7 separate regions of the Homo sapiens genome follow, and all the other regions are linked to region 3. A link means that fine-mapping ties the variant in region 3 to the plasma level of a protein whose gene starts in the linked region. Region 3 holds a variant in brackets. A gene starts in each other region. All regions are shown on their forward strands.

Region 1 (4,000 bases), not on the chromosome of region 3:
TTAAAAAAAAAAACTCTCAGCAAACTAGGAATAGAGGGATACTTCCTCAGCTTTATAGAGTGCATTAAAAAAGACCTACAGCAAATATCATACTTAATGGTGAGAAACTAGATATTTTTCTCCTAAGATTGAGTATAAGGCAAGGATGTTTCTTCTCACCACTCCAATTCAACATAATACTGGAAGGCCTAGCCAACACAACAGCACAAGACAAGAAAATAAAAATATATACAGATTAGAAAGAATAAATAAAACTGAATTTATTTGCAGAAGACATGATTGTCTGTGTAGAAAATTACAGAGAATCAGCAACAAAAAAAAGTCATGCCACTAATAAGCAATTTTAGCTACAGGATACAAGGCTAATAGATAAAATTCAATAACTTCCTGTATATCAGCAATGAGCAACTAGAATTTGAAATTAATACACAATACTATTTACATTAACACCAATAAAATGAAGTGTTTAGAAATTAGTCTAAGATGTACAATATATATGAGGGAAACTACAAACTTCTGATGAAAGATTAAAGACGATCTAAATAAATGAAGAGATATTCCACATGTATGGATAGGTGGAGTTAATGTTGTCAGCATGTCAGTTCTTCCCAACTTGATCTGTACCTTCAACACAATCCCAGTCCAAATCCCAGCAGGTTCTTTTTGGATGTGATAGACTGATTTTAATGTTTATATGGAAAGGTTAAAGATCTAGAATAGCTAACACAGTACTGAAAAAGAATAGTCAGAGGACTAACATTACCCAACTTCAAGATTTACTATTAGGAAACAGTAATCAAGACGGTGTGGTATTGGTGAAAGAATAGACAAATGGATCAATGGAACAGAATAGAGAGCCCTCAACAGATGAATGGATACATAAAATGTACTATATACATACAAGGGAATATTACTCAGCCTTAAGGATATGTAGCATATCATATGCTGCCACATAGATGAACCCTGAGATCCTTACGCTAAATGACATAAGCCAGTCACAAAAGAAAAATACTATATGATTTCACTCACATGAGGTAGTTAGAGCAGTCAAAATCAGAAACAGTAAGTAGAAATGGTGGTTGCCAGGGGCTTGGGGGAGGGGAAACTGGAGATCAATAGGTATAGAATTTCTGTTTACAGATGAAAAGAGTTATTGAGACTGTTGCACAACAGTGTGAATGTTCTTAATGCCACTAAACTATGCACTTAAAAATGGTTAAGATGGTATGTGCATTTTTACCACAATAAAAATAATAAATGAATAAAGAACAAAGGAAGTAATTAGCTATCAAACCACAACAAGGCACGGAGAAACCTTAAATGCATATTGCTTAGTGAAAGAAGCCAGTCTGAAAAGGCTGCCTACTATATGATTCCAACTATGCATATGATACTTGGGAAAAGACAAGCTCACAGAGATAGTAAAAAGATCAGTGGTAGCCAGAGATTTGTGGAGAGGAAAAAGGATGAATAGAAGAATACAGTGAATTCTTAGAGCAGGAAAACTTCTATATGATATTGTAATGATGGATAGATCAGGCCTGCAGGGGGAGTAGATGAGGTCAGTCTTTTGCAAACCTGGTTCCTTCTTGCCACGCCCCGCCCACAGCCCCACTGTGTGTGAACCAAGAGAGTTGGAAGGCCTTCTGCAGACGGACCCATTCCACCTGAATCTCCATGACATATTGGACTTCTCCATATAATTTCATTTGGAAAGAAACTTGAGCATCTAAATAAAATGTTTGGAAACCACCATGCTACAAGACCAGCATGTGCTGTCTAGTTCTTACCCTCTGCAACAGTAAGATTCTGGGGCATTAAGACTTAGTTCCAGGATTCTGTCATTCTGCCAACGTTCTGTGGCTGGGGTTCTAAAGGAGCTTGCCTGGCTTAGAACTGCAAGTGACTCTAGTGTGATGGAGAGCACCAGCAAAGCCTTAGGGCCCATCCCTGGCCTCCTGTTACCCACAGAGGGGTAGGCCCTTGGCTCTCTTCCACTATGACGTCAGCTTCCATTCTTCCTTTCTTATAGACAATTTTCCATTTCAAGGAAATCAGAGCCCTTAATAGTTCAGTGAGGTCACTTTGCTGAGCACAATCCCATACCCTTCAGCCTCTGCTCCACAGAGCCTAAGCAAAAGATAGAAACTCACAACTTCCTTGTTTTGTTATCTGGAAATTATCCCAGGATCTGGTGCTTACTCAGCATATTCAAGGAAGGTCTTACTTCATTCTTCCTTGATTGTGACCATGCCCAGGCTCTCTGCTCCCTATAAAAGGCAGGCAGAGCCACCGAGGAGCAGAGAGGTTGAGAACAACCCAGAAACCTTCACCTCTCATGCTGAAGCTCACACCCTTGCCCTCCAAGATGAAGGTTTCTGCAGCGCTTCTGTGCCTGCTGCTCATGGCAGCCACTTTCAGCCCTCAGGGACTTGCTCAGCCAGGTAAGACCTCTCCCTTTTTAAGGGGAGACCAAAAGAGGAATTAAGAAGAGCCATTATGTCACAGCTCATTAGGAACAAAACCAGAACTAAAGGCTCAGGTCACTGAGGCTGGTTCCCTTGATCTTTCCTGACCCCAGTTTTGGGAGGAGACAGTGGAGCCGCTACAGCAACAACCCTCCCATTGTTTGGGGAAATAATCCAGAACGAAGAACTGTTTCTCACTGTGGGTGTAAAGGACATTTCAGGCCGTAGTGGAGAGGGAGAAACTATTGCCTGAAGCTTCAAATTTTGGTTATGGTTCAGTGTACCTTCCAGAACAGTGGCTGTGTAAAGAGGATGAGGACCCAGAGGAATCTCAGCGTATGGCATAGGCTAACTCTAAAGCCCATGAGGATGAAAGACTGGGAAGCAAGGTATTGGAACTTATGTTCCCAGTGTCAGAAGTTTTGGGTTAGTAGACAAGGACTAGCTTGTTACTCAAAATGTTTCCAAACCCAGTCAACAATGACGGGCCGCAGAGTTCAATAGAGGAAAGAGACTCACAGGCAACATTTTATCTCTGGGATCTGGACTAAGACACTGAACTTGGGATGGTGACTTCTTGGTCTTCTCCTTCCTTCTCTTCTTTTCCTTACAAATGCACACTTACGGTGGGTCCTAAATGTCTCATTCTTTGCAAAATTTCTTTCAGATTCAGTTTCCATTCCAATCACCTGCTGCTTTAACGTGATCAATAGGAAAATTCCTATCCAGAGGCTGGAGAGCTACACAAGAATCACCAACATCCAATGTCCCAAGGAAGCTGTGATGTGAGTGGACAGTGCCTGGCACCCCCATTCAAAAGTTCTGATGGACAACATAGAGAAGTCAAGATTCATGTCCATATGAGTCGGATGCATATAACTTCTATCCAAAGGGCCCCTCTACCCCATAGAGAAACTCAGTCCATGAGAAGGAGTCCATAACTGCTCTAGGATTCCCTTCTAGGGGCTTGGTGAAACTAACCCAATATCTGTAGCCAGGACCCTGGAGGGTTTCACCTGGACAGCAAGAGCAGAGCTTCCTTCTGGAGCTTCTTCCTCCCACTCTTCCCCTCCCTCCTCTCCCGGGTCCGGGTCCTTCACCTAAGGACCAAGGGCTGATCAGTTCTAGGGACCAATGGCCCACAGTCCTGTGCAGGATCTTCAAAGTCTTCCATCTAATTGTGCCCTCTCTCCCCCACAGCTTCAAGACCAAACGGGGCAAGGAGGTCTGTGCTGACCCCAAGGAGAGATGGGTCAGGGATTCCATGAAGCATCTGGACCAAATATTTCAAAATCTGAAGCCATGAGCCTTCATACATGGACTGAGAGTCAGAGCTTGAAGAAAAGCTTATTTATTTTCCCCAACCTCCCCCAGGTGCAGTGTGACATTATTTTATTATAACATCCACAAAGAGATTATTTTTAAATAATTTAAAGCATAATATTTCTTAAAAAGTATTTAATTATATTTAAGTTGTTGATGTTTTAACTCTATCTGTCATACATCCTAGTGAATGTAAAATGCAAAATCCT
Region 2 (4,000 bases), not on the chromosome of region 3:
TTGATTCTGGGATTCTATGAGTGATGCTGATATGACTAAGCCAGGAGAGACTTATTTAAAGATCTCAGCATCTTTCAGCTTGTTAACCTAGAGAAAACCCGAAGCATGACTGGATTATAAAGGGAAATTGAATGCGGTCCACCAAGTTCATGGTAAAGGATGCACTAACTGATTAGAGAGAGGTTTCCCCTGATATGAGGAAAACTTCTTGGAAGATGAGGTGAGATGGCCTAGGAAGAAATTCCTACACAAAGTTGCACAGTCTCTAGTCCTGGAAACATTTTATTCATTGGATAAGAATGGATTGAGGCATGAGCAGAGGACTGAGACAAACACAGAGAAGTTTCAACACTGGTTGGGGAGAAAAGGAGTAACTAGTGAGATTCAGGCAGAACAAGAATAAGGCTCCTCAAGAGGCACAAGCAAAGCAGGGCTCGAGTTGATTTGTTCTCTCTTCATCCTGCTTTTTGTAATTCCACCAGAGTCTGAAATGGCCACTCCATAGAGTCTCTGCTCTGGGATTCTCCAGGAAACCAATATCCATCATGAGACATCAAGTCTAGTCCCAGGAAGAAGAGATTCTGGAATGGAAACATCCTGGGTGGGAGTCTCAGCACATCTACTATTCTGTCTGAGTTACTGGACAAATAACTTCAGTTTTAACCTAACGAAAGCTGGGTTGGTTGGAGGACTGGGCAGGCAGCGCTGGAAAGTATGTCAGCACCATACCTGACTCCCTGAATGCACTCAACAATGCCATTACTGACCACTTACTAGAAATAAAACAGTCATTTGTTGAATACAACCCGTTTCTTTTTACAAGTGTAGTGAAAAGTGTTTTCTTTCAAGAAACCCCATGCATTTATAGACATTGCCTCAGTGACCCTTTATGAAAGAAGTCACTAGTCTTTGTATGCCCATTGGGCAAGGGCACCGCAAGGCTCAGAAGGAGGAGGCAGTGGGCTAGGAGAATCGAGAGATCAGAATTTTAAACTCAGCCCAGCCATTAACATGCCTCAAGTACTCCTATCATATTTGTAAGAGACAACAGTTCACTGAAATGAATTCTAAGGTCTTTGGGTTTTTATCAGTGTGCTTCTGTAGTTTCTGAGGAAATCTAAGGCACAACTGAGGAATGAAGTCAGGCTTTCCAATTCCCGAAATACTCCTCCACTGCTTACTCATGTCCCTTGGAAATTAAGAAGGAAGCCAGGAGAATAGCTGCCATAACCAGGGATGAACTTCTTGTCCACTGCTGCCTGCTATGCTAGCAACAGCCTCCTAACTCATAATGACTTAGCCATGAGGAATGTTTCTAGATTCTCCTTTAGCTGTCTGCCCATTTGGAAGATGCTGAGGACAGAGAGAGGACCCAAGCAGGCAACTAGTTGGAGGACTTGTACACGTTTCCTTCCAGCAGTATGTCAGAGAGGTGGCAGCCCACTGGGGACAGGGCTGCCTGGGTTCTGTGCTCGAGGGGACCTTGAGCAGGCTATTTAACCCTTCTGTGCCTCAGTTGCCTGATCTATAACATGAAAATTAGCAATCCCTACTAGATAAAGTTGGGGAATTTACAGAGTTAATATTTGTAAAGGTCTGAGAATATTCCTGGCAGAGTAAGCACTCTGTGAGTATGACACTGGCATTTCTTCTGCAGCACTACATGCTGTCTATGCCTTTGTCCAAGTCTGAAACCCTAGAACTCTTAGAATTCAGTTCAATGTTTACACAATCCTACAGTTCTGCTAGGCTTCTATGATGCTACTATTCTGCATTTGAATGAGCAAATGGATTTAATGCATTGTCAGGGAGCCGGCCAAAGCTTGAGAGCTCCTTCCTGGCTGGGAGGCCCCTTGGAATGTGGCCTGAAGGTAAGCTGGCAGCGAGCCTGACATGCTTTCATCTAGTTTCCTCGCTTCCTTCCTTTTCTGCAGTTTTCGCTTCAGAGAAAGCAGAATCCTTAAAAATAACCCTCTTAGTTCACATCTGTGGTCAGTCTGGGCTTAATGGCACCCCATCCTCCCCATTTGCTCATTTGGTCTCAGCAGTGAATGGAAAAAGTGTCTCGTCCTGACCCCCTGCTTCCCTTTCCTACTTCCTGGAAATCCACAGGATGCTGCATTTGCTCAGCAGATTTAACAGCCCACTTATCACTCATGGAAGATCCCTCCTCCTGCTTGACTCCGCCCTCTCTCCCTCTGCCCGCTTTCAATAAGAGGCAGAGACAGCAGCCAGAGGAACCGAGAGGCTGAGACTAACCCAGAAACATCCAATTCTCAAACTGAAGCTCGCACTCTCGCCTCCAGCATGAAAGTCTCTGCCGCCCTTCTGTGCCTGCTGCTCATAGCAGCCACCTTCATTCCCCAAGGGCTCGCTCAGCCAGGTAAGGCCCCCTCTTCTTCTCCTTGAACCACATTGTCTTCTCTCTGAGTTATCATGGACCATCCAAGCAGACGTGGTACCCACAGTCTTGCTTTAACGCTACTTTTCCAAGATAAGGTGACTCAGAAAAGGACAAGGGGTGAGCCCAACCACACAGCTGCTGCTCGGCAGAGCCTGAACTAGAATTCCAGCTGTGAACCCCAAATCCAGCTCCTTCCAGGATTCCAGCTCTGGGAACACACTCAGCGCAGTTACTCCCCCAGCTGCTTCCAGCAGAGTTTGGGGATCAGGGTAATCAAAGAGAGGGTGGGTGTGTAGGCTGTTTCCAGACACGCTGGAGACCCAGAATCTGGTCTGTGCTTCATTCACCTTAGCTTCCAGAGACGGTGACTCTGCAGAGGTAATGAGTATCAGGGAAACTCATGACCAGGCATAGCCTATTCAGAGTCTAAAAGGAGGCTCATAGTGGGGCTCCCCAGCTGATCTTCCCTGGTGCTGATCATCTGGATTATTGGTCCGTCTTAATGACACTTGTAGGCATTATCTAGCTTTAACAGCTCCTCCTTCTCTCTGTCCATTATCAATGTTATATACCCATTTTACAGCATAGGAAACTGAGTCATTGGGTCAAAGATCACATTCTAGCTCTGAGGTATAGGCAGAAGCACTGGGATTTAATGAGCTCTTTGTCTTCTCCTGCCTGCCTTTTGCTTTTTCCTCATGACTCTTTTCTGCTCTTAAGATCAGAATAATCCAGTTCATCCTAAAATGCTTTTTCTTTGTGGTTTATTTTCCAGATGCAATCAATGCCCCAGTCACCTGCTGTTATAACTTCACCAATAGGAAGATCTCAGTGCAGAGGCTCGCGAGCTATAGAAGAATCACCAGCAGCAAGTGTCCCAAAGAAGCTGTGATGTGAGTTCAGCACACCAACCTTCCCTGGCCTGAAGTTCTTCCTTGTGGAGCAAGGGACAAGCCTCATAAACCTAGAGTCAGAGAGTGCACTATTTAACTTAATGTACAAAGGTTCCCAATGGGAAAACTGAGGCACCAAGGGAAAAAGTGAACCCCAACATCACTCTCCACCTGGGTGCCTATTCAGAACACCCCAATTTCTTTAGCTTGAAGTCAGGATGGCTCCACCTGGACACCTATAGGAGCAGTTTGCCCTGGGTTCCCTCCTTCCACCTGCGTTCCTCCTCTAGCTCCCATGGCAGCCCTTTGGTGCAGAATGGGCTGCACTTCTAGACCAAAACTGCAAAGGAACTTCATCTAACTCTGTCCTCCCTCCCCACAGCTTCAAGACCATTGTGGCCAAGGAGATCTGTGCTGACCCCAAGCAGAAGTGGGTTCAGGATTCCATGGACCACCTGGACAAGCAAACCCAAACTCCGAAGACTTGAACACTCACTCCACAACCCAAGAATCTGCAGCTAACTTATTTTCCCCTAGCTTTCCCCAGACACCCTGTTTTATTTTATTATAATGAATTTTGTTTGTTGATGTGAAACATTATGCCTTAAGTAATGTTAATTCTTATTTAAGTTATTGATGTTTTAAGTTTATCTTTCATGGTACTAGTGTTTTTTAGATACAGAGACTTGGGGAAATTGCTTTT
Region 3 (4,149 bases):
AGTGAGAAACTTTACATATTGCTAAGATGCCTGGCCAATGAAACAGTTCCAGAGACTTTATGTCCCCCAGTAGAAATATGAATAGAAATCACCCTGTGGGCAATGGTCCCATTTTAAAATATGCTGTCCCATTGTCCCCTAGAGCCTACTTTAACTTGTCAGACCATGTATTCCACTTCATATGCAAGAGGCATGCACTGAGCCCATAGGTGGCTAGGCAAACACCCAATAGCTCCCTGAAATGGCTTCATTATGCAGCCTCGACAGCCACCCCAACCCTCCCACTCTCACACTGAAACACCCAGACCTAGAGATAGCTAGACACACCCAGACACCCGCCAAGCCCCTCACATACAGATATGTGCACAATGATACACAGCAAACGTACACAGAGTTCAGTACACACAAAGAGCTCACGCCCACGTGCACACACCCCTCAGTTGGGACAGAGTTGACCACCACCACCTTTCTCCCAAACACATGGCTTTTGAACTGCCTTTCCTTGGATCCAGTTCAAGGGGATGGAGGAGCAGTGAGAGTCAGCCGCCCTTCCACTCCAATTTCCCAGCACCTCCCTTATCTCTGCCTCACAAGTCACCCAGCCCCCCTCTCTTCCTTCCTTGTGCTTGAAGAATCTCTCCTTGCTGGAAAGCCCCCTGTTTTCTCAATCTCCCTTTCCACTTCGGTAAAATCTCTACTTGCTGGAAAGCCCCCTGTTTTCTCAATCTCCCTTTCCACTTCGGTAAAATGCCCACTTTCTGGTCCCCACCTTTTTCCTGAGTGTAGTCCCAACCAGCCAAATCCAACCTCAAAACAGGAAGACCCAAGGCCAGTGACCCCCATAGGCCTGAGGCTTGTGCAGGCAGTGGGCGTGGGGTAAGGCTTCCTGATGCCCCCTGTCCCTGCCCAGAACCTGATGGCCCTCATTAGTCCTTGGCTCTTATCTTGGAAGCACAGGCGCTGACAGCCGTCCCAGCCCTTCTGTCTGCGGGCCTGAACCAAACGGTGCCATGGGGAACTGTCTGCACAGGGTGAGTATGGGGCCAGGCCCCAGAGTCCCTTATCCCTATGCCCCTCATTTCCCCTGCTGTTTGCCCCTCAGTCTTTATATCTCTTCCTTTTCCTCCTCATCTTTTCTCCCTTCCTGCTTTTTTCCTCTTCCTTCAAAGTCTTTTTCCTTCTCTCCTTCCTATGCTAGCCTCCTAGCTCCCTCTTGTGTCCCTCCCTTTGCCTTTGAGTCAGTTCCATCCTGGTCTCTTGGTGCCTTTTCCTTCTGACCTTGCACTGCTCCTCCAGCCCCAGCTGCCCTGGCTTCCCCAGGACTGTTCCTGCTCCGGCTCTTCAGGCTCCCTGCTTTGTCCTTTTCCACTGTCCGCACTGCATCTGACTCCTGCAGAGACCTTGTTCTCCCACCCGACCTTCCTCTCTGTCCTCCCCTCCCACCTGCCCCTCAATTCCCAGGAGACTCTTCCGGTGTAACTCTGATGGCCTCCTCTGGGTATGTCCTCCAGGCGGAGCTCTCCCCCTCAACTGAGAACTCAAGTCAGCTGGACTTCGAAGATGTATGGAATTCTTCCTATGGTGTGAATGATTCCTTCCCAGATGGAGACTATG[G/A]TGCCAACCTGGAAGCAGCTGCCCCCTGCCACTCCTGTAACCTGCTGGATGACTCTGCACTGCCCTTCTTCATCCTCACCAGTGTCCTGGGTATCCTAGCTAGCAGCACTGTCCTCTTCATGCTTTTCAGACCTCTCTTCCGCTGGCAGCTCTGCCCTGGCTGGCCTGTCCTGGCACAGCTGGCTGTGGGCAGTGCCCTCTTCAGCATTGTGGTGCCCGTCTTGGCCCCAGGGCTAGGTAGCACTCGCAGCTCTGCCCTGTGTAGCCTGGGCTACTGTGTCTGGTATGGCTCAGCCTTTGCCCAGGCTTTGCTGCTAGGGTGCCATGCCTCCCTGGGCCACAGACTGGGTGCAGGCCAGGTCCCAGGCCTCACCCTGGGGCTCACTGTGGGAATTTGGGGAGTGGCTGCCCTACTGACACTGCCTGTCACCCTGGCCAGTGGTGCTTCTGGTGGACTCTGCACCCTGATATACAGCACGGAGCTGAAGGCTTTGCAGGCCACACACACTGTAGCCTGTCTTGCCATCTTTGTCTTGTTGCCATTGGGTTTGTTTGGAGCCAAGGGGCTGAAGAAGGCATTGGGTATGGGGCCAGGCCCCTGGATGAATATCCTGTGGGCCTGGTTTATTTTCTGGTGGCCTCATGGGGTGGTTCTAGGACTGGATTTCCTGGTGAGGTCCAAGCTGTTGCTGTTGTCAACATGTCTGGCCCAGCAGGCTCTGGACCTGCTGCTGAACCTGGCAGAAGCCCTGGCAATTTTGCACTGTGTGGCTACGCCCCTGCTCCTCGCCCTATTCTGCCACCAGGCCACCCGCACCCTCTTGCCCTCTCTGCCCCTCCCTGAAGGATGGTCTTCTCATCTGGACACCCTTGGAAGCAAATCCTAGTTCTCTTCCCACCTGTCAACCTGAATTAAAGTCTACACTGCCTTTGTGAAGCGGGTGGTTTCTTATTTTGTCTGGGGAGAAGAAGGAGAATGGAGAGAGAGACATTTTTATGTCAGACTTTCTTGCCAGTGTCTGCTTCTATAGCTGGCTTGGGAAGAAGGTGAATGATGAATAAATACCCTCAGGGTACACAGATGTTCTCTTGAGGTGTGGGGTCACGGCCATCTCAAGGGAGAAGAGAAGAGGAACCAGAGCATGAGGGGAGTCATTAAACCAAAAAAAACAGAAGGGATGGCTTAGCTGGAAAAAAAGCTGTTCTGGGAAGCAAATGGAATAGGAACTCAAACTGAGAGATAAACAGTGAAGAGTGATGACAAAGCCCAGAGCAATACCACCTCCCCCTGTCCAACCTGCCCAGCCTCTGTCTTCTGTCTCCTCTCTGGCTTTGTTTAGTGATTAGGACAGTGGTGGGGAAGGTGAAAGAAGCATCCCAGGGGATGTTACTCAGTTCAGGGAACATATCAAGGTAATTTAAAAAGCCACTTCCTGGGAGTCATCTCTCCCAGGTTCCTCAGCATGACCTGAATGTGCGTGCGTGTGTGTGTGTGTGTGTGTGTACACATCTGTTTCTCGATCTGTTAGAATCTACCTTTATGTTAGATGTATGCATGTAAAAACATATGTCCACCCATGAGCTTGCATCTCTGTCAGCACCTGAACTGCGCACACCTGTGCGTGTGCACTGACTTTTCTCAGGACCCAAACCCCCACTCAATTCTGCACTCATCCCTGTTCACAGGATATAGAATCGGGATTTATGACTCACTCCTTACCCAAATGAGTTTTCTTTACCCTGGTTTTTAAGCCTAGTCTTTTCTGTGTAGGATGTGTGGAGGGAAGAAAAGATCAAGAAGTTGTGAAGGGTGGAGAAACTTGAAGGGGGAGGCCCTGATTTGATTCATCTTCTGCTTGGAATTCCCCGAATTTCCCTTTCAGAATCTCAGCTTTTGAAATAAACCTTTATTTCCCACATACATCTTTCCTTCCACCTTCCACACAATACCCCAATCCCCTGGGCACCTTTTTCCCAACCCCTGATTCTCTGGCTGCTTAATCATGACCTTTGAGATTTTTCTCAGTCTCTACCTACCCAAGTTTAGATGGCTGGAAGGACAGAAACCCCTCCTCATCAGGGGCACAGCTTTTACCACCAAGAGCAAATTCACCCTCTACCCAAGAGGCTACAAAACAGTTAGTTCCTACCTCTAACCCAACTAAAGGCTGGGGAAACTTGAGCAGATACGTTCTATCAGTTTGAACCCAATTACCATCTTACCATTTTCCAAAGATATGCTATACCTGGTTTCTTTACTAAAATGTTTCTGCTTGACTCTCTGGGCTTGGGAATAGTAGGCGAGTGCGGGAGAGGTGCAGAGATGAGTTAGAATAGCTTAGGCAGGAGGGTGCAAAAGGCTTAGGGAATTTTCCTGGGTGGGTGCCACGACAAGGCCTCTAAATCTCCCACCTCCTGTCTCTTAGCAACCACCAGGTTAGCTCCTGATTGGTTCGTCCTCAATTGAAAGGCGGGATTTAGGGACCGATTGAGACGCGGGAGACATTCTGAAACAGAAAGGAAGGGAGAGAAAAT
Region 4 (4,000 bases), not on the chromosome of region 3:
ATTAGAGTGAGCTGGGAAGACTCCATAAATAAGGAGATAGAAAGTAGGCCAACTCTTCACCAATTTCTGGAGCTGGGAGTAAAAACAATTTGAAAAAGAGATAATCGAGAGAATGAGTAGCCTGAGCAAAGTCATAGGGGTAAGATAAAACGACATAAAGCTAAAACCAGAATCAAAGCCTTGCATTGCTCCCAAATTAATATTCAAAGTTGTATAATGCTCAATTCCCCCATTGAATAATTTTCCTTTTTTGCATTCCATGTCCATGATCCATGGCCCAGTTATAGGCATGAGGACCCCACCCATGGTCTCTCATCAAACCCCTTTTCACTGATATGGAAGGCGATTAGTTGGTGATTTTGTAATGTGTATGTGAGATGAGGAGCTAGTTGTATGTGAGATGAGGAGCTAGATTAGTGGTTTCCAAAATTTATTCTTTGTATTTCTGAGATATGTGTGTGGGAAGAATGACAAGAAGTCTCTTGTCTCTGATTCAAACTGAAGGTCTCTGATTTTGTCGATAAATTTGCCTTCCCTATATTCTTTTACTTGGAAAAATATTTTCACAGCTCATTAGATGTTTTAGAAACACAGTATTTTAAGATCTTGATATGCTGTGCAGTTCCGATAGCCTATAAAACAAATAGTGGTTTTAAAACATATCCTCAAATTATTTTACACTCTTCCCATTAAGAGGTATGACTATGTTCCCTAACCTTGCACCTGGGATCCTTAAGCCATCATGCAAAATATCTAGCCATGTGGAGGGACCACTGGAAAGATCACACACACACACACACACACACACACACACACACACATACAGAGAGAGAGAGAGACACCTGAGAAATTCCATCTGGTCCAACTGCTGGCTGTTGAAGTCCTCCCAGCCCAGACCCCAGACACTGAATGAAGGCCTTGTGATATAGTCAAGAGCAAAAAAACCCAGAAGATTGTTATTGTTTTAAGTCACTGTTTTCAGATAGATTGCTATGCAGCAATAGATTATTGAAATAGACACTACAATTTTAGGTACTATTATTCTAAGAATATTGAATTTTATTTTTCTGCTAATGTTCTATTATTTTACTTTTCTCTGGGTTTTAGAAAGCCACCAGGATTTAAGACAGTGAAGAATCTTTGAGTCCTTTGTAGAGTTGAACCAAAGTTTGAATGTCTCTTTGTGGACTCGTGTCCTAGGGATACCACTCCAAAGGGAAAAGGGGAATATCCCTTACATATCTTTGACTTTGGTATCCCTGATTCCTTCCTTTTTCTATAGAATGTGTCTCATTTCAGAGAAACTGGTCTCTTGATAATAGCCATAGATTACATACTGTGGTCTTCCTCTACATAGACCCTACCTCACCTACCACTCCTGGTCTTAGCTGAAAAACAGGCTAGCCTCGACTCATACTGTCATTTCCTATCCTCCCACTGAAGTGCACTGGCTCAGCAGATTTATTACTCCATAGATTTATTACTCCATTCTATGATTCATCCTCTCTGCTTCCTATAAAAGGCAGAGACAGAGCTTCCAGAGGAGCAGAGGGGCTGAGACCAAACCAGAAACCTCCAATTCTCATGTGGAAGCCCATGCCCTCACCCTCCAACATGAAAGCCTCTGCAGCACTTCTGTGTCTGCTGCTCACAGCAGCTGCTTTCAGCCCCCAGGGGCTTGCTCAGCCAGGTAAGGTCCCTCTCTCCTTCTCCTTGAAGCACATTGCCCCCTCTCTGGGTTATCCTGGACCAATCAAGAAGACCTGATACCCACAGTCTCACTTTAACAGCTACTTTTCCAAGATAAGGTAACTTAGAAAAAGGATAAGGGGTGAGCCCAACCACACAGCTGCTGTTGGGTAGAGCCTGAACTAGAATTCCAGCTGTGAACCCCAAATCCAGCTCCTTCTAGGATTCCAGCTCTGGGAACACCCTCAGTGCAGTTACCACTCCAGCTGCTTCCAGCAGAATTTGGGATCAGGGTGATCAAAGACAGGAGGCTTCTGGGGATGGGTGTGCGGGCTGTTTCCAGATACCGGGAGACCCAGAATCTGGTCTGTGGAAGCCCAGCTTCCAGAAACAGCAGCTCTGCAGAGGTGGTACGTATCAGGGAAACTCATGACCAAGCATTGAATGCTCAGAGCCTAAAAGGGGATCCATAGTTGGGGTACCCTTGCTCTAAGGAATTGGATTATTATATTAGCCCCTCCTAGCAATGCCCAGAGTAGCCATCAATTCCTCTTCCGTCTTTCAACTGGTGATGGTGCATCCCTATTTCACAGTCCATAAAAGTGAAAGGGAGTTTATGAAATGCCTCAAAGGGCAGAGACATTGGGTTTGGGATGGGCAGCTTTTCCCTCCACCTCTTCCTTTCTTTCTGATTCCTTCTTCTTACCATTCCCTGTTTTACAAACAGAAAGACCCAGGACACACCCTCAATGGACTTTTCTTCTTGTTGTTTCATTGCAGTTGGGATTAATACTTCAACTACCTGCTGCTACAGATTTATCAATAAGAAAATCCCTAAGCAGAGGCTGGAGAGCTACAGAAGGACCACCAGTAGCCACTGTCCCCGGGAAGCTGTAATGTATGTGGACGATGACCACCCACCCCTCACACCTCAGTCCTAGGTTCTTCCCTGGGCAGGGAATAGGACTAGTATCAGAATGAGTTGGAGTCAAATACTGTGATGCATACAGCATCTCTAACCTTATCCCAGACATTTGCCAGTGAGAAACAATACAAGTAAAGAAAGTGGCTTCTCACTCTCAGCTCCCTTTCCAGCTATCATTTTACATCTCAGTTCGTTCCTTCATCCTGGAACCAAGAGAGATTCACTTGGGCTACCAAAAAGAGCTGCTTCTCTGAGTCCCCTTCCTTTGTTTTATCTTCTTCCTTCATCCCTGAGGCATCCCCATCAGCTAGGCTGATGGGCTAGACAGATTTCCCATAGACTTGGTCACACTCCCAGGCTGAACCCTCAAGGTGTTCCATCTGACTGTCTCCTTTCTGCTCCACAGCTTCAAGACCAAACTGGACAAGGAGATCTGTGCTGACCCCACACAGAAGTGGGTCCAGGACTTTATGAAGCACCTGGACAAGAAAACCCAAACTCCAAAGCTTTGAACATTCATGACTGAACTGAAAACAAGCCATGACTTGAGAAACAAATAATTTGTATACCCTGTCCTTTCTCAGAGTGGTTCTGAGATTATTTTAATCTAATTCTAAGGAATATGAGCTTTATGTAATAATGTGAATCATGGTTTTTCTTAGTAGATTTTAAAAGTTATTAATATTTTAATTTAATCTTCCATGGATTTTGGTGGGTTTTGAACATAAAGCCTTGGATGTATATGTCATCTCAGTGCTGTAAAAACTGTGGGATGCTCCTCCCTTCTCTACCTCATGGGGGTATTGTATAAGTCCTTGCAAGAATCAGTGCAAAGATTTGCTTTAATTGTTAAGATATGATGTCCCTATGGAAGCATATTGTTATTATATAATTACATATTTGCATATGTATGACTCCCAAATTTTCACATAAAATAGATTTTTGTATAACAGCTGCCATTCATGGTTTTTTAAAAGGATAAAGTAATAAAGCTGGTGGGGGTAACAGGGTGACAAGGTGAAGGGCGTGGTTGCAGAGGTTGGGCTCACATTGTGGAGAAATGAGCGCGTAATGGACTCTGGGCTTTCCCCCAGGCCAGGCTCACCTGCATGTTAGGGAGAGGCAGCCACAGGCTGGGGCCAGATGAACCCACCCCCCAGCTCCAGATCTGACATCTGCTTCAGCCACTTGTTCAAATACCTTTCTTTTTTCCCAAACTCATTCTTTTTCTCACCATCCCACGCTCTACCCAAAAGCCTGTCCCCTCTTCTATTCTATCAGCCTTGTGACTGGCTGGTTTTCCCCCTTCTAATCAATCCTCTAGTCTAGTAAATACAAATGTCACTTTCATTAAAAAATCAAGTAGGAGACCAACAGATGATTTGG
Region 5 (4,149 bases), not on the chromosome of region 3:
GGGAGACAACAGAGGAGAAGAACCTCAACTTAACTCTTCTCCCTGCTCTAATGTCCTCAGAAGCTCCCTTGTGCCTAAACCCAGTCAGAAGCTAGAAGGTCAGCAACCTCACTGATGTAACCCACCAAGATTGGCTTCCTAGGGCAGAGAATAGAATGGAAAAGAATGGAATGTGTGTCTGAAGGGACAAGCTTATAATATCCTTTTCTCAGGTGAGTCTTGACACATTTTTGTGTCAAAGTTAGGTAGGTCTCAAAATGAATTGAGTGGTGTACAATCTTTTGATATTCTCTGGAAGAGATTGCACAAGATTGAAATGACCACTTCCTTCAGTGCTTGGAGGAATTAGCTGTTTGTGCCCTTTGAGCCCAGAGAATGTTTTGTGGGAAGATTTTCAATTCCTGATTCCATTTCTTTAATAGCTTTAGAATGACTTTCTATTTTTTATTTATTTGTGCACCCTGGTCAGTTAGATTTTTAAGAAATTCATCCATTTCCTCTAAACTAAATTTTTGGCATAAGGTTCTTATCATTTTCTTTTTGGTGTCTGCAGGCTCTGCAACTGGTTATATGTACCTTTTTCCTTTTTTCTTTTCTTTTTTTTTTTTTCTGGGACAGAGTCCTACTCTGTCACTCAGACTGGGGTGCAGTGGTGCAATCTTGGCTCACTGTAACCTCGGCCTCCCAGGTTCAAGCAATTCTCCTGCCTCAGCCTCCCAAGTAGCTGGGATTACAGGCATGTGCCACCATGCCTGGGTAATTTTTGTATTTTTTTTAGTAAAGACAGGGTTTTACCATGTTGTCCAGGCTGCTCTAGAACTCTTGACCTCAAGTGATCCCCCCGCCTCAGCCCCTTTTTTCTTTTTTTTTTCATTTTCAGTTCAGGAGAGTTTTAGCTTAATTATAGGCTACAGAACCAGCTTTGGGCTTCATCTATCCTTTCTAATATTTACTGTTTCCTATTTCTCTAATCCTAGCTCTTTATTTCTTCCCTTTACTTTCACTGGGCTTATTTTGCTATAGTGGAATGCAGAGGGATGAGTATTCCAGGAAGGCACAAAAACTGTGCCAAGTCTTGGAGCTAGGGATGAGTGGGAAAGGGACATGTTCAACCATTTTAAGCCATTCCCTCCCCACCTCCCAGCTCCCAGATATGTGCCCCTCGCAGGAGGAGCCCAGGAATGGGCCAAACACCTCACTTCTTTGCTCTGAGGGCCACCCCAGCCCTCCCATCAACAGCTCTAGAAACCCAATGGTCCTTCCTGGAAACACGGGGCCTGCATCAATCAGAGGTGTTTGAACCATGTCCCTCTGGGCCTGAGGGGCAGAAGGGGACACAATATGTAATGTAAGGAGCCCCTGTCATCAGAAATCTGACTTAATCTGTTTCAGATATTAGACTTCCACATAAAAGTTGACTTGGAAAAAGACTTCTGCTGCTAAACAAAAGTTGAAACTGCCTTGGTGATAAAATATAAGCAGACCAGCTTTCTCTTCTAGCTTTCCCTCTCATTTCCCATAAGATTTTGGTCAAGTTATTTAATCTCTCTGCATCCGTTTCCTCTTCTATGAAATGGGCATGATAATAATGGTATGTACCTCCTCAAACTAAATATATAACGTGAACAGAGTCCTTAGCACAGCACTCTTTCTCTACAGGAGTTAATTTTCATTGTTTTTCTCTTTCCTGTTGGAGAAAGTAAGAAGAAAACAGCTCCTTTATGGCTTCCCATGGTGAATGGCTGGGGCGCGTCTGTGTCCCTTTCTCCTCTCTGGCTCCTTGTGGCCTGAACAGCCAGAAGGAAGCCATGCCATGCTGTTTCAGCCCTCAGCTTCCCTCTTGCATTTCCTAGAAAAGTCTTTGGTGCCCAGCTCCAGCTCAGCAGATTCAGGATCCCCCTTCATCATGACTTGGTCAACGCCCTGCTCAGGCCAAGGTCCTCTGAGAGTTCCAAGCTTCTCCACTCCCTATAAAAGGCCGGCGGAACAGCCAGAGGAGCAGAGAGGCAAAGAAACATTGTGAAATCTCCAACTCTTAACCTTCAACATGAAAGTCTCTGCAGTGCTTCTGTGCCTGCTGCTCATGACAGCAGCTTTCAACCCCCAGGGACTTGCTCAGCCAGGTAAGTCACCTCCCTTCGACTCTCCCTCTCTTTCCCTCTGTTTCTCTATTCAAGGAAGACCTAAGCCCGAGTGCTCCTCCACTTTTTTTTTAGATTGAGTCTCATTATGTTGCCCAGGCTGAAGTGCAGGGGTGCGATCTTGGCTCATTGCAACCTTCACCTCCCAGGTTCAAGCGATTCTCTTGCCTCAGCCTTCTGAGTAGCTGTGATTACAGGCACCCGCCATCACGTGCAGCTAATTTTTGTATTTTTAGTAGAGAAGGGGTTTCACTATGTTGGCCAGGCTGGTCTCAAACTCTTGACCTCAAGTGATCCTCCCGTCTCGGCCTCCCAAAGTGCTGGGATTACAGGCGTGAGCCACCAGGCCCAGCCAAGTGCCCCACTTCTAAGCCCACCAGAATAGTAAGGCTCCTCAGAGGTTCACTTTAACATCTAATTTTAAAGATAGAAAGCTGAAGCCCATGTTGGAGGCAGAAGGGACCCTAGCCATCCACCTCCAGGTTATTGCAGAGCAAGAATGAAACCTAAGCTTCTGACTCCAGATTTAGGGCCTTTTCTTTGACCTCATCTGATCGTCCCAAACTCTGCAGATCTGGGACCACACCCAGGACCTTTCCCACTGGCCTTGCCCGTGGCCTCCCCTAGATGGCTGTGACATGTCTCCACCATGCAGCTGAGCCTTTGAGATCCTGAGGCACATGTCACAGGTCCCACCTCACCTCAGGGTCTAGGGTGGGAGTGCTGGGCTTGGGGGTGAGTAAGATCTATTTCTTCCTCTTTGCTTTGCATCCCATACAGATGCTCCCTGCTGTATTCAAGCTGAGAAAAGCCTAACACATCCTCAAAGTCTTTTTCTTTGTAACTATTTCTAGATGCACTCAACGTCCCATCTACTTGCTGCTTCACATTTAGCAGTAAGAAGATCTCCTTGCAGAGGCTGAAGAGCTATGTGATCACCACCAGCAGGTGTCCCCAGAAGGCTGTCATGTGGGTAGAAAAATCCCTGCTCACCTGGCTCCTCCCCACTCCCACATTCCCCAATCCAAAGTTCTGCCCCAGGAGACAGACGTCAGACTGACTTGAGATCTTAGGATGAGATCTAGCCAGACTGTGTGATGCAAATCCTCCAATTTTGGCTGCACAACAGGTCCAAAGAGGACCTATAATTTCCCACACCTTGTTTCCTGGATGGGCACCAGCCCACACCCTTTAGCAGATGCCAGGATCAGTTTCCCAGGGGCAGCAAGAGCAGTGGCTGCCTCCAGAGACCCCTTCTGTCCACACACCTCCTACTTCCTGTCCTGGAGGGGTGCCCCTTCACCTGTAGTAGGTGGACCAGGCAGGTTTAGAACCCAGTGTGTCATCTCCTGGGTAAACCCTCAAAGGGTTCCATCTAACTGTGCCAGATCTCCTTCCTCCACAGCTTCAGAACCAAACTGGGCAAGGAGATCTGTGCTGACCCAAAGGAGAAGTGGGTCCAGAATTATATGAAACACCTGGGCCGGAAAGCTCACACCCTGAAGACTTGAACTCTGCTACCCCTACTGAAATCAAGCTGGAGTACGTGAAATGACTTTTCCATTCTCCTCTGGCCTCCTCTTCTATGCTTTGGAATACTTCTACCATAATTTTCAAATAGGATGCATTCGGTTTTGTGATTCAAAATGTACTATGTGTTAAGTAATATTGGCTATTATTTGACTTGTTGCTGGTTTGGAGTTTATTTGAGTATTGCTGATCTTTTCTAAAGCAAGGCCTTGAGCAAGTAGGTTGCTGTCTCTAAGCCCCCTTCCCTTCCACTATGAGCTGCTGGCAGTGGGTTTGTATTCGGTTCCCAGGGGTTGAGAGCATGCCTGTGGGAGTCATGGACATGAAGGGATGCTGCAATGTAGGAAGGAGAGCTCTTTGTGAATGTGAGGTGTTGCTAAATATGTTATTGTGGAAAGATGAATGCAATAGTAGGACTGCTGACATTTTGCAGAAAATACATTTTATTTAAAATCTCCTACACAGTGGTGTTTTCTTC
Region 6 (4,000 bases), not on the chromosome of region 3:
CCCACAACAGTCCCCAGAGTGTGATGTTCCCCTTCCTGTGTCCATGTGTTCTCCTTGTTCAATTCCCACCTATGAGTGAGAACATGCGGTGTTTGGTTTTTTGTCCTTGCGATAGTTTACTGAGAATGATGATTTCCAATTTCATCCACGTCCCTACAAAGGACATGAACTCATCCTTTTTTATGGCTGCATAGTATTCCATGGTGTATATGTGCCACATTTTCTTAATCCAGTCTATCATTGTTGGACATTTGGGTTGGTTCCAAGTCTTTGCTATTGTGAATAGTGCTGCAATAAACATTCGTGTGCATGTGTCTTTATAGCAGCATGATTTATAGTCCTTTGGGTATATACCCAGTAATGGGACGGCTGGGTCAAATGGTATTTGTAGTTCTAGATCCCTGAGGAATCGCCACACTGACTTCCACACTGGTTGAACTAGTTTACAGTCCCACCAACAGTGTAAAAGTGTTCCCATTTCTCCACATCCTCTCCAGCACCTGTTGTTTCCTGACTTTTTAATGATTGCCATTCTAACTGGTGTGAGATGGTATCTCATTGTGGTTTTGATTTGCATTTCTCTGATGGCCAGTGATGGTGAGCATTGTTTCATGTGTTTTTTGGCTGCATAAATGTCTTGAGAAGTGTCTGTTCATGTCCTTCATCCACTTTTTGATGGGGTTGTTTGTTTTTTTGTTGTAAATTTGTTTGAGTTCATTGTAGGTTCTGGATATTAGCCCTTTGTCAGATGAGTAGGTCGCGAAAATTTTCTCCCATTTTGTAGGTTGCCTGTTCACTCTGATGGTAGTTTCTTTTGCTGTGCAGAAGCTCTTGAGTTTAATTAGATCCCATTTGTCAATTTTGGCTTTTGTTGCCATTGCTTTTGGTGTTTTATACATGAAGACCTTGCCCATGCCTATGTCCTGAATGGGTAATGCCTAGGTTTTCTTCTAGGGTTTTTATGGTTTCAGGTCTAACGTTTAAGTCTTTAATCCATCTTGAATTAATTTTTGTATAAGGTGTAAGGAAGGGATCCAGTTTCAGCTTTCTACATATGGCTAGCCAGTTTTCCCAGCACCATTTATTAAATAGGGAATCCTTTCCCTATTGCTTGTTTTTCTCAGGTTTGTCAAAGATCAGATAGTTGTAGATATGCGGCATTATTTCTGAGGGCTCTGTTCTGTTCCATTGATCTATATCTCTGTTTTGGTACCAGTACCATGCTGTTTTGGTTACTGTAGCCTTGTAGTATAGTTTGAAGTCAGGTAGCGTGATGCCTCCAGCTTGGTTCTTTTGGCTTAGGATTGACTTGGCCATGCGGGCTCTTTTTTGGTTCCATATGAACTTTCAAGTAGTTTTTTCCAATTCTGTGAAGAAAGTCATTGGTAGCTTGATGGGGATGGTATTGAATCTATAAGTTACCTTGGGCAGTATGGCCATATTCACGATATTGATTTTTCCTACCCATGAGCATGGAATATTCTTCCATTTGTTTGTATCCTCTTTTATTTCATTGAGCAGTGGTTTGTAGTTCTCCTTGAAGAGGTCCTTCATGTCCCTTGTAAGTTGGATTCCTAGGTATTTTATTCTCTTTGAAGCAATTGTGAATGGGAGTTCACTCATGATTTGGCTCTCTGTTTGTTTGTTATTGGTGTATAAGAATGCTTGTGATTTTTGTGCATTGATTTTGTATCCTGAGACTTTGCTGAAGTTGCTTATCAGCTTAAGGAGATTTTGGGCTGAGACCATGTCTCTGTTTGTTTGTTATTGGTGTATAAGAATGCTTGTGATTTTTGTGCATTGATTTTGTATCCTGAGACTTTGCTGAAGTTGCTTATCAGCTTAAGGAGATTTTGGGCTGAGACCATGGGGTTTTCTAGATATACAATTATGTAATTTGCAAATAGGGACAATTTGACTTCCTCTTTTCCTAATTGAATACCCTTTATTTCCTTCTCCTGCCTAATTGTCCTGGCCATTGGAGAGGAGGAGCATCTCCCAGACAGCTGCGTGCCTCAGAGAAGCCAGCCTCGCTAACCCCTCAAGCCCAGGGGATGAGACCCTGCTGAATCGCTGCTCTATTTTGGCTGGAGCCACAGCTCCCTCCACCGCGGGGCGGGGCTAAAATGTCCTCCCCCTTAAGGGAGCAGGCAGCTCCTCCCAGCCACCCACCCCACCAATTCCCATCCTCCCGCCCCCCTCCACCAACCCCTTCTTTCCACACTGCCCCCTGAGTTCAGGGAATTTCCCCAGCATCCCAAAGCTTGAGTTTCCTGCCAGTCGGGAGGGATGAATGCAGATAAAGGGAGTGCAGAAGGCACGAGGAAACCAAAGTGCTCTGTATCCTCCAGTCTCCGCGCCTCCACCCAGCTCAGGAACCCGCGAACCCTCTCTTGACCACTATGAGCCTCCCGTCCAGCCGCGCGGCCCGTGTCCCGGGTCCTTCGGGCTCCTTGTGCGCGCTGCTCGCGCTGCTGCTCCTGCTGACGCCGCCGGGGCCCCTCGCCAGCGGTGAGAGCTCCTGGCACTGGGGTGCATCCCAGCCTCTGCGGGGCCGCTGCGTTCCAGGGAACTCTCCCAGCAACCTGCCCTATAAAAATGTCTTTCTTCCCCAGCTGGTCCTGTCTCTGCTGTGCTGACAGAGCTGCGTTGCACTTGTTTACGCGTTACGCTGAGAGTAAACCCCAAAACGATTGGTAAACTGCAGGTGTTCCCCGCAGGCCCGCAGTGCTCCAAGGTGGAAGTGGTGTAAGTTCTCCTGTGTTGCTGTGTCCACTGTGACTTAGGCAAGTCCTCCAGCCTGGGTCGTCAACCTTTGTGGCTCATGGGTGCATCCTCTTTTTCTTTACTTCAGAGCCTCCCTGAAGAACGGGAAGCAAGTTTGTCTGGACCCGGAAGCCCCTTTTCTAAAGAAAGTCATCCAGAAAATTTTGGACAGGTATTTGTCCCTTTGATCTTTGTGGTGTTTTAATATCTTCTATGGAAAGCATATACTTCACAATGTCCTTATTCTCTCTGTAGGATTTAGACTATGCTTAGAATTATAAGGTTGTTAAGAAGAATAAGGAAACTTTTTTTCTGGAATGTTCTGGGTAAACCTTTATCACCAATCTTACATGCCTGAACAATTACACAGAGCTCATTACTGACATCTATTTTTTGTCTGCTCTTTGCTTTTATTGATTTTTTTCCCCCACCAAACGCTTTTGAAAACCAAATGTAGCATACAAGAGTGTGGGAATTGGTTATACTAATATAACTCTTTTCTCAACAGTGGAAACAAGAAAAACTGAGTAACAAAAAAGACCATGCATCATAAAATTGCCCAGTCTTCAGCGGAGCAGTTTTCTGGAGATCCCTGGACCCAGTAAGAATAAGAAGGAAGGGTTGGTTTTTTTCCATTTTCTACATGGATTCCCTACTTTGAAGAGTGTGGGGGAAAGCCTACGCTTCTCCCTGAAGTTTACAGCTCAGCTAATGAAGTACTAATATAGTATTTCCACTATTTACTGTTATTTTACCTGATAAGTTATTGAACCCTTTGGCAATTGACCATATTGTGAGCAAAGAATCACTGGTTATTAGTCTTTCAATGAATATTGAATTGAAGATAACTATTGTATTTCTATCATACATTCCTTAAAGTCTTACCGAAAAGGCTGTGGATTTCGTATGGAAATAATGTTTTATTAGTGTGCTGTTGAGGGAGGTATCCTGTTGTTCTTACTCACTCTTCTCATAAAATAGGAAATATTTTAGTTCTGTTTCTTGGGGAATATGTTACTCTTTACCCTAGGATGCTATTTAAGTTGTACTGTATTAGAACACTGGGTGTGTCATACCGTTATCTGTGCAGAATATATTTCCTTATTCAGAATTTCTAAAAATTTAAGTTCTGTAAGGGCTAATATATTCTCTTCCTATGGTTTTAGACGTTTGATGTCTTCTTAGTATGGCATAATGTCATGATTTACTCATTAAACTTTGATTTTGTATGCTA
Region 7 (4,131 bases), not on the chromosome of region 3:
GCTCTCTCACTAGTCTTCTGGCCTTGCCACAAACTTGTTGCTCTCTGTCCCTGTCCCCTCTTCTCCTGGGCCTTGTCTCCCTCCTCTTTCCTATCTTGATTTCCACTGGAAACTATGCCTCCAGACCCACCTCTACCAGGTACCATTTACCGTTTTCCACCAGTTCTAGCCTGCAGCATGTAACCTGCACCAGGACACTTAATTTTTTTTTTTTTTTTTTGAGACGAACTCTCACTCTGTTGCCCACATTGGAGTGCAATGGCATGATCTCAGCTCATTGCAACCTCCATTTCCCAGGTTCAAGTGATGCTCCTGCCTCAGACTCCCAAGTAGCTGGGATTATAGGCACGCATCAGCACACCCAGCGAATTTCTGTGTTTTTAATAGAGACAAGGTTTTGCCATGTTGGCCAGGGTGGTCTCGAACTCCTGACCTCAGGTGATCCGCCTGTGTTGGCCTCCCAAAGTGCTGGGATAACAGGTGTGAGCCACCACGCCTAGCCTTTATTTTGTTTTATTTTTTATTTTTTTTGAGACGGAGTTTCACTCTTGTTGCCCAGGCTGGAGTGCAATGGCGCGATCTCGGCTCACCACAACCTCTGCCTCCCAGGTTCAAGTGATTCTTCCGCCTCAGCCTCCCAAGTAGCTGGGATTACAGGCATGCGCCACCACGTCCAGCTAATTTTGTATTTTTAGTAGAGACAGGGTTTCTCCACGTTGGTCAGGCTGGTCTCGAACTCCCAACCTCAGGAGATCTGCCCACCTCAGCCTCCCAAAGTGCTGGGATTACAGGCGTGAGCCACCACGCCCGGCCTATTTTATTTTTTTTGAAACAGTTTCTCTCTTGTCACCCAGGCTGGAGTGCAGTGGCGCGATCTCTACTCCTGCAAACTCCGCCTCCCGGGTTCAAGCGATTCTCCTGCCTCAGCCTCCGGAGTAACTGGGCTTACAGGCCTGCGCCACCTCACCTGGCTGATTCTTTCATTGTAATAGAACAGCTTTGTTGGGATATAATTCACACGGCACATACAGTTGACTCTTGAACAACACGGATTTGAACTCTGTGGGCCCACTCATAGGCAGCCTTTTGCCAACCAAAGGAGGATAGAAAATACAAAACTCGGTGATGCAAAAGCTGCATAAATTCAGGGGAAATTGTATGCCAAAATCCTGGCACCAATCCCCTGTGGTTACTGGGGGATAACTGTAATTCACTCTTTTTTTTCTCTTTTGTTAGGGATGAAGTCTCTCTGTGTTACCCAGGCTGGAGTGCAGTGGTGCGATCATACCTCACTGCAGCCTTGAACTCCTGGGCTCAAGCGATCGTCTAAACCTCCCCACCATGTACAACTCCACCAATTTAAAGGCTATAATTATAATTCAATGGTTTTTAGTATAGTCATAGATTATGCAACCATCACCACAATCAATTTTAGGATATTTTCATCACCCCAGAAAGGAACCCTGCACTCAACATGTCATTTAATTGTTAGCCACATTTTCAAGGTTATTCATCATAGCTGATGATTCCTGAGCTCTTACTTCACTGTGAGTTTATTAAAAGTGGGGATTGGCTGGGTCCAGTGACTCACACTTGTAATCCCAGCATTTTGGGAGGCTGAGGCGGGCAAATCACATGAGCTCAGAAGTTTAAGACCAGCCTGGCCAACCATGGTGAAATTCTACTAATAACACAAAAATTAGCTGAGCATGGTGGCATGTGCCTGTAATTCCAGCTACTTGGGAGGCTGAGGCAGGAAAATTGCTTGAACCCGGGAGGGGGAGGTTGCAGTGAGCCAAGATCGTGCCATTGCACTCTAGCCTGGGCAACAAGAAAGAAACTCCGTCTCAAAAAGAGAAAAAAAAAGTCAGGTTCTACCTGAAGCTCAGAGTCACACTTGTTAGTGTGCAGAGGTGGGGTTTCCAGGTTCCCATCCCAAGGCTCATCCTGGGGGTCTGCCCAGCACCCATCCTGTTGCATGACTGATGGGGCCCCAGAAAGTACGTCCGAGAAATACTCACATCACAGCCCGCTGGGAGCAGCTGTTACTGGTGAATTCATAGCTTCGCACCCAGGTCCAGGGAAGGGGCTTGTGGCTGTATTGGAAGCAGCAGGTCTTGGATATGTCACTCCCACCTAAAAATCAGGGAGAGGAAGGGTTTGGAGATACTCATTTCCATCCACTCCCAGGCGGTCCGGGAAGGAACCCCAGGAGGGGAATGGGCCAGCTACGTACGTGTGGCAGTTCCAAGGTGGAGACTCAGGAGGGAGGCCAGGAGCACAGCAGAGGCCAAGGAGAGGCCCATCATGATGCTGCAAATCAGGCCCTTCTCAGGTTTCTCCCAAACTCCTCCTGCCTGATCCCCTTTTATGAGACTGAGACGGCCCTGAAAACAATTCCAGAGAATTCTGTGGTTGGGAACAGAAGCAGCACTTTTGACCCAACAAAGGAAAAGTAAACTAATACTCATAGGAATGAAATTAGACAGTGAAGAAAGATAATCTGGCACTGGGCGTGGTGGCTCATGCCTGTGATCACAGCACTCTGGGAGACCGAGGTGGGCGGATCCCTTGAGGTCAGGAGTTCAAGATCAGCCTGGCCAACATGGAGAAACCCTGTCTCTACTAAAAACACAAAAATTGGCCGGGCATGGTGGCAGGCAACTGTAATCCCAGCTACTCCTGAGGGTGAGGCAGGAGAATCACTTGAACCTGGGAGGTGGAGGTTGCAGTGAGCTGAGATGGCACCACTGCACTGCAGCCTGGGCGACAGAGTGAGACTCTGCCAAAAAAAAAAAAAACAAACAAACAAACAACAAAAAAAAACAAGTGACAGATGGTAGAGATCCCTTTATTGAATTCCATCAACAGGGACAAAAAAAGAAGAGAATTTGGGAGAAGAGCAGGGGCAGGCAGGCCCCAGGGAGTCTGGTTCCCAGTGCTGTTGGCTGAGTCAACACTTTCTTGTTTAAAAAGAAAAAGCAGAGGAAATTAAGTAATATTCCAGTGAACTGAACTAAGTTACTTTATAGCACAATTGGTTGTTGAAGATAGGTTTCTGGCTCTTGGGCAAAGTTTTGTTTCCTTTCTAAGCATTGCTTATCTCTGTGTGGAGCTCTGGATGGTCTCAAGATGTGATCATAGAGTAGCCCAACCTCGACAATGGATATTTAAAAACAGGGTCCAGGCAGGTGCCAGCCCATCTTCTTGGGGCCACACCTGTAGGGCCAGGGCTGGCTGGGGGCATTTGAGAGATCTAACAGATCCCAAACCTGACAGATCATCACAATCACCCGAGGCTTAAAACAAAACAAAACAAACAAACAACAACAAATAATATATATATATAGTGAGAGAGAGGGCCTGGTCAACATGGTGAAACCCCGTCCCCACTAGAAATAAAAAAATTAGCCAGGCACGGTGGCGGGCACCTGTAATCCCAGCTACTAGGGAGGCTGAGGCAGGAGAATCGCTTGAATGCAGGAGGCAGAGGTTACAGTGAGCCGAGATCCCGCCATTGCACTCCAGCCTGGGCGACAGACCAAGACTGTCTCAAAAAAGAAAAAAAAATAGAGATGAGGTCTCTCTATGTGGCCCAGGTTGGTCTTAAACTCTTGGCTCAAGTGACTGTCTCACCTTGGCCTTCAAAAATGTTGGGATTACAGTGAGCCACCACGTCTGGCCATACCTGGTCAATTATTATTATTATTTTGTGTGTGTGTGTGGGGCCAGTCACAGTGGCTCACGCCTGTAATCCCAGCACTTTGGAAGGCAGAGGCAGGGGGATCGTCTGAGGTCAGGAGGTTGAGATCAGCCTGGCGAACATGGTGAAACCCCGTCTCTACTAAAAATACAAAAATTAGCCGGGCTAATTTTGTGGTGGCTCATGCTTGTAATCCGAGCAACTTGGGAGGCTGAGGCAGGAGAGTCACTTGAACCTGGGGGGCAGAGGTTGCAGTGAGCCAAGATCGTGCCATTGCACTCCAGCCTAAGAAAAAAGAGCAAAACTCTGTCACAAAAAAAAAGAAATTTGTAGAGCCCAAAGGTTGCCAGGCTGGTCTCAAACTCCTGGCTTCAAGGCGATCTGCTTACTCCAGCCTCCCAAAGCACTGGGATTATAGGGGAGAGCCA

Which allele goes with the higher level. Alleles are on the strand shown, and positions count from the first base shown. The strength of an association depends on the size of the effect and on how common the allele is.
As copies of G replace A in region 3, the plasma level of the protein whose gene starts at base 2,302 in region 1 goes up (strong association).
As copies of A replace G in region 3, the plasma level of the protein whose gene starts at base 2,243 in region 2 goes up (strong association).
As copies of G replace A in region 3, the plasma level of the protein whose gene starts at base 1,545 in region 4 goes up (strong association).
In carriers of allele G in region 3, the plasma level of the protein whose gene starts at base 2,001 in region 5 tends to be lower than with A alone (strong association).
For the plasma level of the protein whose gene starts at base 2,330 in region 6, allele G in region 3 goes with a lower level than allele A (moderate association).
For the plasma level of the protein whose gene starts at base 2,344 in region 7, G is the low allele of the variant in region 3 and A is the other (moderate association).

The links. PIP is the posterior inclusion probability: the model's chance that the variant is causal. The UK Biobank Pharma Proteomics Project read protein levels with antibody pairs (Olink). The fine-mapping took linkage between variants from a reference panel, not from the people measured, so its PIPs are less certain.
Region 1: CCL8 starts here. The variant in region 3 is fine-mapped to the plasma level of the CCL8 protein (UK Biobank, PIP above 0.99).
Region 2: it holds the start of CCL2, and the variant in region 3 is fine-mapped to the plasma level of the CCL2 protein (UK Biobank, PIP above 0.99).
Region 4: it holds the start of CCL7, and the variant in region 3 is fine-mapped to the plasma level of the CCL7 protein (UK Biobank, PIP above 0.99).
Region 5: CCL13 starts here. The variant in region 3 is fine-mapped to the plasma level of the CCL13 protein (UK Biobank, PIP above 0.99).
Region 6: it holds the start of CXCL6, and the variant in region 3 is fine-mapped to the plasma level of the CXCL6 protein (UK Biobank, PIP above 0.99).
Region 7: CCL26 starts here. The variant in region 3 is fine-mapped to the plasma level of the CCL26 protein (UK Biobank, PIP above 0.99).

What each region holds. Positions count from the first base shown.
Region 1 is chr17:34,317,134-34,321,133 of GRCh38, forward strand. CCL8 (C-C motif chemokine ligand 8) reads left to right here and starts at 2,302. Exons shown (of 3, transcript NM_005623.3): 1 at 2,302-2,444; 2 at 3,136-3,253; 3 at 3,669-4,000. The coding sequence starts at 2,369. The coding sequence ends at 3,774.
Region 2 is chr17:34,253,043-34,257,042 of GRCh38, forward strand. It overlaps CCL2 (C-C motif chemokine ligand 2), which reads left to right and starts at 2,243. Exons shown (of 3, transcript NM_002982.4): 1 at 2,243-2,383; 2 at 3,180-3,297; 3 at 3,680-4,000. The coding sequence starts at 2,308. The coding sequence ends at 3,785. RefSeq lists enhancers at 1-21, 965-1,939, 1,940-2,914.
Region 3 is chr1:159,203,950-159,208,098 of GRCh38, forward strand. ACKR1 (atypical chemokine receptor 1 (Duffy blood group)) reads left to right here and starts at 926. Exons shown (of 2, transcript NM_002036.4): 1 at 926-1,031; 2 at 1,512-2,551. The coding sequence starts at 1,011. The coding sequence ends at 2,501. The variant G/A (reference allele first, on the strand shown) is at 1,615.
Region 4 is chr17:34,268,677-34,272,676 of GRCh38, forward strand. It overlaps CCL7 (C-C motif chemokine ligand 7), which reads left to right and starts at 1,545. Exons shown (of 3, transcript NM_006273.4): 1 at 1,545-1,690; 2 at 2,470-2,587; 3 at 3,021-3,566. The coding sequence starts at 1,615. The coding sequence ends at 3,126.
Region 5 is chr17:34,354,480-34,358,628 of GRCh38, forward strand. CCL13 (C-C motif chemokine ligand 13) reads left to right here and starts at 2,001. Exons shown (of 3, transcript NM_005408.3): 1 at 2,001-2,123; 2 at 2,996-3,110; 3 at 3,547-4,131. The coding sequence starts at 2,048. The coding sequence ends at 3,652.
Region 6 is chr4:73,834,349-73,838,348 of GRCh38, forward strand. CXCL6 (C-X-C motif chemokine ligand 6) reads left to right here and starts at 2,330. Exons shown (of 4, transcript NM_002993.4): 1 at 2,330-2,511; 2 at 2,616-2,748; 3 at 2,855-2,938; 4 at 3,275-4,000. The coding sequence starts at 2,403. The coding sequence ends at 3,293. RefSeq lists a silencer at 2,304-2,598.
Region 7 is chr7:75,769,868-75,773,998 of GRCh38, forward strand. CCL26 (C-C motif chemokine ligand 26) reads right to left here and starts at 2,344. Exons shown (of 3, transcript NM_001371938.1): 1 at 2,237-2,344; 2 at 2,022-2,136. The coding sequence starts at 2,309. RefSeq lists a silencer at 2,864-3,158.